Homo sapiens: one gene and its partners. The protein of the gene in region 2 purifies or fractionates together with the protein of the main gene of each other region. This does not show direct contact. Each region holds a gene or a part of one and is shown on either strand. Other genes may lie near its edges.

Region 1 (3,500 bases), 1.7 Mb from region 2:
CGGGTAGGCAATTTTTTTTTTTTTCCCCAACGGGACACAAGAAATCAGATAAAGACCGGGCGCGGTGGCTTACACCTGTAATCCCAGCACTTTGAGAGGCCGAGGTGAATGGATCATCTGAGGTTGGGAGTTCGAGACCACCCTGACCAACATGGAGAAACCTTGTGTCTACTAAAAAAATAAAAAATTAGCCACGCATGGTGGCGGGCACCTGTAATCCCAGCTACTCGGGAGGCTGAGGCAGGAGAATCCCTTGAACCCGGGAGGCGGAGGTTACAGTGAGCCGAGATCGAGCCATTGCACTCCAGCCTGGGCAACAAGAGCGAAACTCCGTCTTAAAAAATAAATATATGTATATATATATCAGATAAAAATCAAGGAAAATACATATAAATTGGACTACAGTAAAATTGTGACTGTCTCTTCATCAGAAGATGCCATTGGCTGGGCACAGTGGCTTGTGCCTGTAATTCCAGCTACTTAAAAGGCTGAGGCAGGGGAGGCTCCCTTGAGCTTAGGAGTTTTAGGTAGCAGTGAGTGAGCTGTGATCATGCCACTGTATTCCAGCCTATGTGACAAAGCGAGACTGTTGAAAAGTGCCATTTACAGTCAAAAGGCAGGGTACAGATTAGAAGATATTTACAGTGTTTATATGACAATACATAAATAACTTGTACAAATTGGTAAGAAAAAGACAATCAGACACTGGAGCAGGTACTTCGCAAAAGATGATCAAATAGTGGCTGGGCGCAGTGGCTGACACCCATAATCCCGGCACTTTGGGAGGCTGAGGTGAGCGGATCACCTGAGGTCAGGAGTTCAAGATCAGCTTGGCCAACATGGTGAAACATGGTCTCTACTAAAAATACAAAAAATTAGCTGGGGGTATTGGTGCATGCCTGTGATCCCAGCTATCTGGGAGTCTGAGGCAGGAGAATCACCTGTACCCGGGAGGCGGAAGTTGCAGTGAGCTGAGATCGTGCCATTGCACTCCAGCCTGGGCAACAGAGTGAGACTCTGTCTCCAAAAAAAAAAAAGGAAAAAAGATAATCAAGTAGCCACTAAACATGAAAAAATGCTTAACCTCATTAGTTATTGTGAATATTCAAACCATAATTAAATATTTGTACAAATCCAGTAGAATAGTTAAAACTATTAAGACTGACAACACCAATTGTTGGTGAGGATGTGGAGCAACAGAAACTCTCATACACTGCTGGTGGGAATGTAAGTTTATATAACTGGAAAACTATATGGCAGTATTTATTAAATCTCAACATATTCATACTCTTTATTCAGCAATTTCACTTTCAGGTATATTCCCAGTAGTAATATATATGCATACCAAAAGACATTTCTAAGAATCTTTATAACTGCACTATTTGTAAAAGCCAAAACCTAATGTTAACCTAAATGTCTATCAACAGTAGAATGGATAAATAAATTCTGGTATATTTGCTTAATGGAATACTATGCAGCAGTGAGAGTAAATGACCTAGTACTATACTCAGCAACATAGGTGAATCTCACAAAGAGCATAGGAAGCCAGATACAAAAGAGTAATTCTACGTGATTTATAAATAGAATTTATATTTGTAAATTATAAAGTTCAGAGACTGGCAAAACTCATCAGTGGTGATATGAATTAGGATAATGGCAGCATTTTTGTTGTGGGGAGTGATTGGAAGGAAGCCCAAAGGGGACTTCTGGAGGTTTGGTGTTGTTTCTTGGTTTGGGTGGTTATAAATGTGTGTTCACTTTGTGAAAACTTAGTGAACTGTGCATACATGATTTAAGCATTTTTCTGTATTAATGTTGTATTTCAATGAAAAGTTTACCTGAAAATGAAGCCAGCATGTGACAGTCTCCCTTTTCCTTCACTCAAAAGAAGTGACTGAGTATATTTTAGGTAATCACAATAATTATTAGGAAATTTGAAATCTTAAGTGCTGTAAAATATTGTTTTATTTAAAAAAAATTTCTTTAGAGACAGGGTCTCGCTGTGTCACCCAAGCTGGAGTGCACTGGTGTGATAATAGCTCACTGCAGCTTCCAACTCCTGGGCTCAAGCAGTCCTCCTACCTTGGCCTCTCAAATTGCTGGGAATATAGGTGTGAGCCACCATGCCCAGCCTTAAAAAGATATTAGCAAGCAAGATCAAATGCGGTAAGCGGAGGAAATATTTGTATGAGTGAATTTTGGTATTTTACCTGAGAGTAAAAAAAAAAAATTTAATTCTAAATAAAACTTAGCCACAGTTATTATTCTGTATTATAAAAGTAGCTCTAACTTTGTGAATTTTACTAATATAAAATTTAAGCTCTGAGCTGTATTAAATTTTTTCAATGAAAACTTGTATTTTAAAGAATATGTCATAAATATTCTTTGACCTCACAGGCCAACTGTGCAGGAAGATGGAGGGGATGTAATCTACAAAGGCTTTGAAGATGGCATTGTACAGCTGAAACTCCAGGGTTCTTGTACCAGCTGCCCTAGTTCAATCATTACTCTGAAAAATGGAATTCAGAACATGCTGCAGTTTTATATTCCGGAGGTAGAAGGCGTAGAACAGGTATGCCAATATTATATGACAGTCTAGATTTTTTTCATTTTTTCTTTTTCTTTGTAGATACAAAGGCTGGAAATAGATGTTAAGGCAAGTATTTGAAAAGAAGTTCATGACCTAGCTTTTTCTTCAAGGGCTGGATTTTTGTGTTGCAATTTTTATCAGACTTGAAGTCTCTTATTTTAGAAGTAACTTTGGGCTGGGCGCAGTGGCTCAAACCTATAATCCCAGCACTTTGGGAGGCTGAGGTGGGTGGATCACCTGAGGTTGGGAGTTCCAGACCAGCCTGACCAACATGGAGAAAACCCCGTCTCTACTAAAAATACAAAATTAGCTGGGCATGGTGGCAGACGCCTGTAATCCCAGCTACTTGGGAGGCTGAGGCAGGAGAATTGCTTGAACCTGGGAGGCGGAGGTTGCGGTGAGCCGAGATCGCGCCATTGCACTCCAGCCTGGGCAACAAAAGCGAAACTCCGTCAAAAAAAAAAAAAAATGAAGTAACTTTAGTGTTATGAGAACCTACTATGTGCCAGGCATTTTTGCTCATTTCATCTTCTAATGACACAGTGCATTAAGTCATTCCCATTTTGCACATAAGGCTACAGAGACTCAGAGGGCATATTGCTGCCCTGATTGCACAAAAATTATGAAAAAGGTTTAAAATGTAACACAGTGTTTTATAGATGAGATTTAGAAATCTTTAGTGGAAGAACTCTACTACATCATATTTACCAATTTTTTTTTTTTTTTTTTTGTAGAGACGGGGTCTTGCTATGTTGCCCAAGTTGGTCTTGAATTCCTGGCCTCAGGTGATCCTCCCAAAATGCTGGGATTAAGGATTAACACAACTGGCCTAATCTATGTATTCTTAAATATGCAAGCAAGAAGCCCATTAAGAAATCATAGTTTGTTGTTATACTGAGTAGAATTCTAG
Region 2 (4,043 bases):
TCCTCAGAGCATACTGACGTCTCCAGCTCTAATCCATTACCACATAGACCACACTAGCCTTTATCTTCTCATTCCAACAGTGAGAAACTTAGCTCCCACTATCAGCCATCCATCTACTTCGTTGTTCAATTTCGGTATGATGTGTGGTAGTTATATTTGTCTTCTAGGGCTGCTATAATAAATGATCACAAACTTAGTGGCTTAAAACAGAAATTATTCTTTTCACAGTTCTAGAAACTAGAATTCCAAAATCAAGAGGTAAAAAATATGGAAGAAAAAGAAAACAGAATAGAGCATAAGACAGATGTAGGACATGGTCAAAAGTTCTAGCAGAATATAGTTGGAGTCCCAGAAAAGGAAGAGAGAGAAAATAGAACAGAAGCAGTAATTGAAAAAATAGTTGACAAGGACACTACCAATCTGATGTAAAACATCACTCTATGGTTTCAAGAAAGTCAGCAACCCCAAGTAGGGCAAACAGAAAACTACACCAGGCCGGGCAACAGTGGCTCACGCCTGTAATCCCAGCATTGTGGGAGGCCAAGTCGGGCAGATCACTTGAGTTCAGGAGTTCGAGACCAGCCTGGCCAACATGGTGAAACCCAGTCTCTACTAAAAATACAAAAATTAGCCAGGCATGGTGGCACATGCCTATAATCCTAGCTACTCAGGAGGCTGAGGCAGGAGAATCGCTTGAACCCAGGAGGCAGAGGCTGCAGTAAGCCAAGATCATGCCATTGCACTCCAGCCTAGGTGACAGAGTGAGACTCTGTCTCAAAAAAAAAAAAAAAAAAAAGGCAGGTGCAGTGGCTCACGCCTGTAATCCCAGCACTTTGGGAGTCAGAGGCGGGCACATCACAAGGTCAAGAGATCGAGACCATCCTGGCCAACATGGTGAAACCCCTTCTCTACTAAAAATATAAAAATTAGCTGGGCATGGTGGCGTGTGCCTGTAGTCCCAGCTACTCTGGAGGCTGAGGCAGGAGAATTGCTTGAACCCTGGAGGCAGGGGTTGCAGTGAGCTGAGATCGCACTACTACACTCCAGCCTGGGTGACAGAGTGAGACTCTGTCTCAAAAGAAAGAAAACCACACCTAAGCACACCATAGTCAAACTGAAAATCAAAGATGACAAGAAAATCTTAAAAGCAATCAAAGTAAAAAAGACATATTATAGAATGACATGTAATGACACTTTTTAGTTGCTGACAGAAAAAACCTGCCAATTTAGAAATCTGATTCCGGCCAAGTTGGTGTAAAAGAGATCAGTTTATCCTCCCTGAAACAAACAAGCAACCTAGACAAAATACATGACATAATGGATTTCTGGCATTGGACATCAGGCAGCACAGGAATTGATTTCTGAGAGAGGGTAAACAAACAAGATGAGCCCTACAATTACCCAGTTTACTGGCTGTAGAGAGTTTCCAGACTGCAGTGCAGGAAGGGGGAATCCACGTGGAACTTAGTGGTCTCCCTGAGTTGCGGAGATAGGAGTTGGAAGTCTGAGGAGGCCATGGTGCTAGAGTTCACAGCTCTCTCCTGGAAAGGAGAGCTGCACAGAGAGTGAACTCTAAAGATCTGTAGTACCTTTCATGTCTTCATCGGAGCTTCGAGTATTGCACGCATGTTAGGAAGCTAGAATAGAACCCCTTGAAAGGATTAGAGGGAATAATCCACACACAGAGGTGGGGATAGTTTTTTCTTACTAGTCATAGTAATTTCCGTAACATTGGGAAGAGTACTCAGAAGGGCTTTGGCTTGGTAGTGAGGAAAATTAGTCCTAGACTAAAAGCTGCTCCAATCCCACCTAACGCAGCAGAAGAAAAGCTTAATAATATTGATATGAATTTAAAAATAAGATAAAATTGACAATGTCTGACATCAGTGAGGACCAATTTTCCTCACTAAGTGGGTCGAGCCGTTCCTGCCACGAGCTTCTAGTGCATGTTCTATTCTGAAAAAGATGAGAATTAACCAGCTACAGTGCAAGATGTCATGAAATGAGCTGTGTTCAGAATCTAGGCACGTGTGACTTTGACATATCTATGAGGTTTAAAAAAGAAATATCAGGAATACAAGTAGAATATGTGCCATATGAAGAAATCATAGCTTATTTATGTAACATTTAGTATCCTCATTAGCTGTTTGACTGGTTTTAGAATTCAGCATATAATCCTTGGCTCTTTGGAAATAAAATTGTATAAATACTAATATTTATTAGATCTGAATGGTAGGTACATGGGTGTTAAACTAGTCTCTGTGCTTTTGTGTGTTTTTTTTAATTAAACTAGTGATTTTAATTAAACTAGTGATTTATGACTGCCTAGGAATGTGGCCATTCATATCATACCTTTTCATCCATTTCTTAGGTTCCCAGTCTAAGTGGGTGACTTTCCAAGATAGAGGCAGATCATTTCTCCGTCAAGTATAGAGAGACACATCTGCTCCTCCTAGAGTGTCCATAAGTATGAAGAAAATAGAAATAACTTAGAAGAGGCTGCAAAAACATTAAAGTTTGAAATTTTTTTGGGTGGGGAATAACATTTTGATGGCAATTTAATAGTGATTTTCATGTGTGTCTTGATAATGTCAAAGGTAATAACCAGGTGTTTTGGCAGGGCAAGTTTTGGGGATCAGGGAAACACTCATATTTGCTAAGTACCTATTATGCCATAAACTGTACTGAAAGCTTTTTATCTGTTACCTCATTTTAATCTGTAGTCAATTTATGTGGTAGACCTCATTTGCCTGTTATAGATGAGGACCCAGGGTTCTCAGGAAAAAGCAATGTCTTCAATCTCACTAATAGTACTGCCAGAATAAACTATTATAAAGTATATCATACATGATTTAGATTATAAGAAGAAACATTTACTAATGGTGAAAATTCTGAGCATTGTGGTTGCTTACCTAGAAAAATTTAGTAACTTCTCTTACTTCTCTGAAAATTTTAAGCTTATTTTTTATGATGATTTAAGAATGGTCCTGCCCACAGGCAGAGGAGATAGACTGCATGAGCTCTCAAAGTTTTTTCTAAGTCTTATGATACTATAAGTTGGTATTTTTATGATCTCAAATGTGTTCAATTTATTTCCCTTTCTTAAGGTGGATAATATTAATGCAGCTGTGATGGATTTGAAAAAAAAGAAGATCCGCAGTCTAAGTGAAGAGGTCAAAATAGGAGCACATGGAAAACCAGTGATTTTTCTCCATCCTAAAGACTGTGGTGGAGTCCTTGTGGAACTGGAGCAAGCTTGATTTATATTTGCAAGCAACTAAATTAATTGACCTGAAAAAGCCTATCAAATACTATCAAAATGTACTATGACATTGAGTCCTTCACTGCTTCCATCATGTAAAAGTTCACAGTTAAAGACTGAATTACAGAAAGATTAAAATATATACATATATAAATACATAAATATGTATATTATTTAGATTAACAAACATATTTGTTAATTTGAATTTGAAGAAAATCTTGATTACTAATTACTTAGGGAACATTATTAAAATCATATAGAAATAAATTATTCCTCTTCTACAATGGGGTAATTGAATGTAATGTGTTAGCTGTGTACAAGGGTATGTGTGTGATGGATGGATACACAAAGGAGTTATGAAAGTATGACAATTTTGTGGCTAATATTTGGGGCAAAAGTTTCTAAGAATGTTTTGGAATACTTTTTTAGAGCAAGCTGTGTAAGATTAGGGAATTTTAATCTCAGAAGTTTTGCTCTTCAAAAACAACTCGTGGTCACAGTTTCCTCAGGGTCCAGGTGTTTTGGGTGCTAGGGCTAGATGTATAGGAAGTTTTGTGGAAAACCTGGTGCGTCATCTAGTAGGCATGTAGATGTCTGAATTATTTTTTTAAATCAGTAGTAATTTGTAGAGTTAGGTATCACGTAGATGCTAGAACACCACAACAGGTCCTAGGGGAATATACAAAATGAATAGAAATCCACTGCCAAGATGCTTATGGTTCATTTGGGGAGAGTACTGCTTGAAATAAATGTAAACACTTACAAAACAACATCTGAATGA
Region 3 (3,500 bases), on a different chromosome or scaffold from region 2:
AAAAGATAATTTAATATATTTAAACTCAGAGGGAAAAAATGGATTTTTAAAGAAATGGTACTGGACATAACTGAATATCCAGCTGGAAGAAAGGAAAACGTGCATCATATGCAAACATTTTTCCAAAGGATGAAACAACTGAAATTTTTAAATGATCACAGTGAACATTCCTCAAGAAAATAGGAGACTTTGTATAGTCTAAGGGAGACCACCTTAACCAAGAAGGACAATGCGGAGACAGTGAAAGAGCAGACACTTCTATATGGCCAAGAGAGCATGAACGAAGTCAGTAGAACTCAAGAGATATTGAAAAATGTTCAAAGGTTAGGAGGATGACATTCACAGAAGAACAAATCCTAACATCTAACAATCACGGAAAACTTTTAATACACTATTCAAAAAGTGTTAAATAGGCCGGGTGCAGTGGCTCACGCCTGTAATCCCAGCACTTTGGGAGGCCAAGTCCTTGGATCATCTGAGGTCAGGAGTTCGACACCAGCCTGGCCAACATGATGAAACCCTGTCTCTACAAAAAATACAAAAATTAGCCAGACATGGTGGCAGGTGCCTGTAATCCCAGCTACTGGGGAGGCTGAGGCAGGATAATTGCTTGAACCTGGGAGGCGTGGGAGGCAGAGGTTGCAGTGAGCCGAGATCGCGCCATTGCATTCCAGCCTGGGTGACAAGAGTGAAACTCCGTCTCAAAAAAAAAAAAGTGTTAAACAGCAATGAGATACTGCCATTTTACATATCAGGTTCCCAAAAAAGATGAAAATGCATAGCTAGTAAAGACATATATTATAGTGTTTTTAGAAATAAATACGAATAGGTTACCCAACACACATATTTTGACCTTAAAAAAGGATTGTTTGTTTTAGAAACAGAGTCTCACTCTTGTCACCCAGGGTGGAATGCTGTGACGCAATCATAGCTCACTGCAGACTCAAACCCCTGGGCTCAAGTGACCCTCCTGCCTCAGCCTCCCGAGTAGTTAGGACTACAGGCACTTGCCACCACACCTGGCTAATTTTTTCTATTTTTTGTATAGATGGAGTCTTGCTTTGTTGCCCAGGCAGTTACTAAACTCCTGGCCTCAAGAGATCTTCCCAGCCAGGCATGGTGGCTCACGCCTGTAATCACAGCATTTTGAGAGGCCGAGGCGGGTTGATCACTTGAGGTCAGGAGTTCAAGACCAGCCTGTCCAACATGGTAAAACCCTGCCTCTACTAAAAATACAAAAATTAGCTGGGCATGGTGGCACACGCCTGTAATCCCGGCTACTCGGGAGGCTGAGACAGGAGAATTGCTTGAACCTGGGAGGCTGAGGTTGCAGTAAGCTGAGATTGCACCACTGCACTCCAGCCTGGGCGACAGACTCGGTCCAAAAAAAAAAAAAAAAAAAAAAAGATCCTCTTGCTGTGGCCTCCCAATGTGCTGGGATTACAGGTGTGAGCCACCACGCCCAGCCCTGTTTGTTTTTTTGAGACAGGGTTTCATCCTGTTGCCCAGGCTGGAGTACAGTGGTGCAATCATGGCTCACTGTAACCTTGAATCCTGTGTTCAGGGGATCCTCTGGCCTCAGCCTCCTGAGTAGCTAGGAATACAGGCATGTACCATCATGCCTGGCTAATTTTTATTTGGTAGAGACAGTGTCTCACTATGTTTCCCAGGCTGGTCTTGAACTCTTGACTTCAAGTGATCCTCCCACCTTGGCCTTCCAAAGTACTAGGACTATAAGTGTGAGCCAACAAACAAATAAGGTTGTTTTTAAATGATAGAATACCCCGCATTTAAAAATATTTTGGGATACCAGTTTTCATGGAAGACCCTGTTTGTTTTCATTCCTGGCAAATGCTTATGGTTTGGATATGGAAAGCATGGGAAGGAAAAAGTGTAGTTTCCATAAATGCCAAAGTATCAGCTTGAAATCAGTTTGTGTTTATGATGTGCTATGTGGTCTTAAAAACGAGTATGTCCTACAATAAAGATTAGAAACAGCATATTAAAAGGGCATACACTGGGCCAGGCACAGTGGCTCACACCTGTAATCCCATGACTTTGGGAGGCTGAGGTGGGCAGATCACCTGAGGTCAGGAGTTCGAGACCAGCCTGGCCAACATGGAGAAACGCCGTCTCTACTGAAAATACAAAAAATTAGCCGGGCATGGTGGCAGGCACCTGTAATCCCAGCTACTCAAGAGGCTGAAACAAGAGAATCGCTTGAACCTGGGAAGTGGAGGTTGCAGTGAGCTGACATTATGCCGCTGCACTCCAGCCTGGGTGGCAAAGTGAGACTCTGTCTCAGATAGATAGATAGCTAGATTAGATAGATAGATAGATAGATAGATAGATAGATAGATAGATAGATAGACTGTCTCAGATAGATAGATCGATCGATCGATAGACTGTCTCAGATAGATAGATAGATATAAATAGATAGATAGATAAATTCATACATTGTACCTGAGAAAAGTGTCACAGAATGACCAATACTGAGACATACTTTAGTAAAATTGCTGGATTTTAAAGACAGGAAAGTCCTTTGAGCATCCAAGCAAAAAAGGTAAAGTCATTTATAAGGAAAAGAAAATAAGAATATCATCAGACTTTTCAACAGAATTTTTTGTGCCAAAGGAAAAAATAGCTTAAGATACTCAATGATCTAAGGAAATGTCAACCAAGGATTTTTATATCCAGCCAAACTGACTTCCAGATACAAAGACTGCACAGAAACTTAACAACTTAACAAGAATTCAGTGACTTTTCAGTCCTTCCTGAGAGATCTCCTGGAAAATGAATTTCAAATGACCAAAAACCACTCCCCGCCCCAAAAAAAACAAAACAGAGAAACACTGATATAAGGACTGGCAGTGAGCACTAAACATGTATTTATTTTTAGATTTAAATTCAAATGAGGGCTCTAGGGGAGAAAATATTTCATGTGTAACGTCTGTAAGACATGTCAGTATAAATACAATGCATCTGTTTTAAAAAATGAATGGACAGTGGGGGAGAACATATGCAAAATATTTAGCTGTTTTCAGTAATCATAAAAGTGATGAGTAATCCCAGCACTTTGGGAGGCTGAGGTAGGCGGATCACAAGGTCAGGAGACTGAGACCATCCTGGCCAACATGGTGAAACCTCGTCTCTACTAAAAATACATAAAAAAAAAAAAATTAGCTTGGTGTGGTGATGCAGCCTGTAATCCCAGCTATTTGGGAGGCTGAGGCAGGAGACTAGGTTGAACCCGGGAGGCGGAGATTGCAGTGAGCTGAGATCGCACCACTGCACTCCAGCCTGGCGACAGAGCGAGACTCCGTCTCAAAAGAAAAAAAAAAGTGATGAAAACATTAGTCTTGTTATTCTGAGGGCTGGTGTGTGTGTATGAGAGAGAGATGTGGAATGAAGTAAATGAATAACGATGTGATATTCTAATTTTACCACCTGTGATATCCTGGAGAAGCAGAATTCTCCTGGAATAAAGAAGACATAGATAT
Region 4 (3,500 bases), on a different chromosome or scaffold from region 2:
GAGTGTAATTTCTGCATTGTGTGTTCTTGGTTCCCTTGCCAAAATTAGTTGACCTTGTATGCATGGATTTGTTTCTGGGCTATTCTGTTCCATTGGTTTTTTTATATCTGTATTTATGCACATACCATACTCTTTTGCTTACTATAACCTTTAAATAAAGTTTAAAATTAGAAGGTATGATGCCCCTCGCTTTGTTCTTTCTCAAGATGGCTTACGTTATTTAAAATTGTTTAAGGTTACACTTAAATTTTACAATTGTGTTTACTATTACTGTGAAAAACGCCACTAAAATTTTGATAGGGATCACATTTGAATCTACAAATCACTTTCGAAAATATACTTTGACAATATCTGTTATCCTGATGGAATCTGGTTTTATCTATTTGTGTCTGCTTCAGTTTCTGTCATCATTTAGTGTCTAAATTTATTGTTATACACTAGATTTTGTATCTTGTATTTAGTGTGTAAATTTTTTATTTCATTGGTTAAATTTATTTTGAATTAATTTCTTATTTTTATAGTATTGCAAATTGAATTTTTTTCTTTTTTTGGAAATTTTGTTACTTTATGGAAATGAAACATATTTGTATGTTGGGCTAGGTATATTGGTTCCTTTTTGTAATTCAGCACTTTCAGAGGCCAAGGCATGTGGATCACTTGAGCACAGGAGTTCGAGATGGGCCTGGGCCTTGTAGTGAGACCTTGCCTTATAAACACAAACCAAGAAACTACCTACAGATATTTGTATGTTGATTACGTATCCTGATACCTTAATGAGTGCCTTTATTAGTTCAGTTTTTGTTATTCCACTCTAGGGTTTCATATATATGCATGATCATATTATCTACAAACAGTAACATTTTTACTACTTTTGCAAGCAGGAGAGCTTTGTTCTCCTTTTCCTTGCCTAATTGTTCTGGTACATTTGGTAATATGTTAAGATAGAAGCTGTGGTCCTGGAAGCATGCTTGTAGATCTGGGCCTCAGCTGTGGTCCCTGAAGCAGCCCTGTGTCTGTATATTTTAAGGATTTAACAATGATTTACAGTTTGTATAATCTATTTTTTGGCAGGTAAACATCTCCTTTTGTTGGGTCCCCAGGCTGATGAGACTACCTCTGGGTTTGCAGAGAAGGGTTGTAGCTGGGTCACAAGGGTGCTGCTGGGTCTGCTGTGCATTGTGTCTTTGATGGTTGTGTTGCCAGAGATTTGGACAGTTATGGATTCTTCTGGGCCCTGAAAAGATTAGATTTCCTTGAGGACATTAATCTATATGGCAGGTTGTAGGCTAGGGTTTTGAAGTTTGTCTGTATATGATGGCCCAAATAACAGGTGTATGAATGGGTTTGGCTTCTGCTGACTACCTGGGAACAGTTTTTACAGGTCTCTCTGTGAGCCTCTGAATGTGTACGAATGGCCACAGACTGTGACTACATATGGCTAGAACTGAGTCACAGGGCTGCTTCAGGGACCACAGCTGAGGCCAGGATCTGCAGGGCTGCTTCAGGGACCACAGCTGAGGCCAGGATCTGCAGGCCTGCCTCCAGGGCCATTGCTGGCTGTGTCTTCCTGCAGGTCTCTTGATGGGAAGGACCACTTCTGGACTATAGCTGAGATTGAATTTGAGAGAGGTTACAGAACTATTTTTGGAATCCTCAGTAAGACCAAACTCTGTGCATAATTTCCTTGTCTGTAGCTATGTCTATGGGCTCTTGAGTTGGCCACCTGGTGAGGGCCTGCTTTTTCCAAGTAACCCCCCTTGATCTTTGACTCCACTGAGGTTTCACAACCCTAACTATAGGCAAGCAATTTTCTACTTATGTTTTGTAGGAGTTTACTAAGTAAAATACCTTATATAAGTGGAATCTTACACTGTCACTTCGTTAGTGTTTTATTTCACTTAAAATAATGGCTTTAAGATTTATCCATATTGTAGCATCTGACAAGATATTTTCATTTTGAGTCTAAATAATTTTTCATTGTATGTGTAAGCCACATCCTTTTAAATTATTCAACTGTTGAAGGATGTTTGAGTTTTTTCATGTTTTGGCTTTTGTAAATAATATGGCTTGGATCTGTGTCTGCAGTCAAATCTCACATCAAATTACAAGCCCTCATGGAGGTGGGCCTGGTGGGAGGTGATGGGATCGTAGGGTTGGCTTCTCATGAATCGTTTAGTACCATCCCCTTTGGTACTGTCTTTGCCATAGTGAGTGACTTCTCCTGAGATCTCATTTTCTTTCTTTTTATTTTTGATAGCTTATCCATTGCAGTTCAATCTAAAAGTGAAATTTCTACAGAAACACGAACTATTTTAACAAAGAAAAAAAATCCCTCATTCAAAATTCTTTGTAGTGGTAATGGCTGCAAATCTGCAGCATTTAGAAAACTATGCTAACAATAAGCTTGCTTTATGAACTGAGATGTACAAAATCTAGAAAGCAGGTGAAAGTGAATTATTTCTTCAACATTTTAGTAAAACTTCTGGTAATCAGAGTTCAAAGCAAATATGGCACATAACAATTCAAGCATAAATCAAGATGGAGAGCCTGGAGAGTTTGATTTCTTAAATTTTCCAAAAAGCTATCATTGCAACATGTAGGATTTCTCCCCTATTTTAACCTTACCAGTTTCAAAGGAAAGTAAAAGGAGTGGATTACATGTAGACAGCATGTGCGCGAGCGCACACACATGCAGGGTGGCAGGTAGAGTGTCTAATTCCTTCTTCCTACTACCCAAGTCTCACTTCACAGAAATCATTAGGTAAAGGAAAACCAATGAGGAGTTCTGCAGTTTTCTTTTAATAACTAAAGAGATCTCATTTTCTAAAAGCAGCTTCTTCCACACACTTGCTCCTGCTTCTACCATGTGAGATGACTCACTCTTGCTTGGCTTCCTGCCATGATTGGAAGCTTTTTGGGGCCTCCTGAGAAACAGAAGCTGCTATGCCTTCTGTACAGCCTGCAGATCCATGAGCGAATTAAATCTCTATTTAAAAATAAGATATCCAGTGTCAGGTATTTATAGCAATACGAGGATAAACTAATACAGTGAATATTGTTGCAATAACATGGATGTTTTGGGTTTCAAAACCCTGTTACATCACTGTGTTAGCCAGGATGGTCTCAATCTCCTGACCTCATGATCAGCCCACTTCCGCCTCCCAAAGTGCTGGGATTACAGACATGAGCCACTGCGCCCAGCCTACTTTTTGGAAAAATATTTTTAAAAATTCTTACATTTACATAGAATTTCAAGGACCATCATGGCCCAATCTTAGAAAATAAGAACAAAGCTAGAGGCACAACACTTCTTGTTTTTAGAACAGAATACAAAGCTACATAAATAAAAACAGTGAGGTATTTGCAGGAAAACAAATAGATGATAGAACAGAACAGAGAACTCAAAAACTAACCATCATGTATATGCTCAAATGATCTTCAACAAGGTTGCTATAACCATACAATAAGAAAAAGACAGTCTCTTTAATAAATGGTGTTGG

Evidence for each region. The genes of interacting proteins can lie anywhere in the genome.
Region 1: the proteins of MCEE (region 2) and NFU1 purify together in Homo sapiens (co-immunoprecipitation; one large-scale study listed by IntAct). This does not show direct contact.
Region 3: the proteins of MCEE (region 2) and FBXO21 purify together in Homo sapiens (co-immunoprecipitation; one large-scale study listed by IntAct). This does not show direct contact.
Region 4: the proteins of MCEE (region 2) and ZNF732 purify together in Homo sapiens (affinity purification with mass spectrometry; one large-scale study listed by BioGRID and IntAct). This does not show direct contact.

What each region holds. Positions count from the first base shown.
Region 1 is NC_000002.12:69,399,436-69,402,935, reverse strand, and holds part of NFU1 (NFU1 iron-sulfur cluster scaffold homolog, mitochondrial), read left to right. Parts: intron 1-2,397; coding exon 2,398-2,572; intron 2,573-3,500. UniProt on the Homo sapiens protein: Iron-sulfur cluster scaffold protein which can assemble [4Fe-4S] clusters and deliver them to target proteins.
Region 2 is NC_000002.12:71,109,187-71,113,229, reverse strand, and holds the end of MCEE (methylmalonyl-CoA epimerase, mitochondrial precursor), read left to right. Parts: intron 1-2,371; coding exon of another isoform or gene 2,372-2,392; exon of another isoform or gene 2,393-2,467; intron 2,468-3,107; coding exon 3,108-3,260; 3' UTR 3,261-3,543; downstream 3,544-4,043. UniProt on the Homo sapiens protein: Methylmalonyl-CoA epimerase involved in propionyl-CoA metabolism.
Region 3 is NC_000012.12:117,180,471-117,183,970, reverse strand, and holds part of FBXO21 (F-box only protein 21), read left to right. Parts: intron 1-3,500. UniProt on the Homo sapiens protein: Substrate-recognition component of the SCF (SKP1-CUL1-F-box protein)-type E3 ubiquitin ligase complex.
Region 4 is NC_000004.12:288,475-291,974, reverse strand, and holds part of ZNF732 (zinc finger protein 732), read left to right. Parts: intron 1-3,500. UniProt on the Homo sapiens protein: May be involved in transcriptional regulation.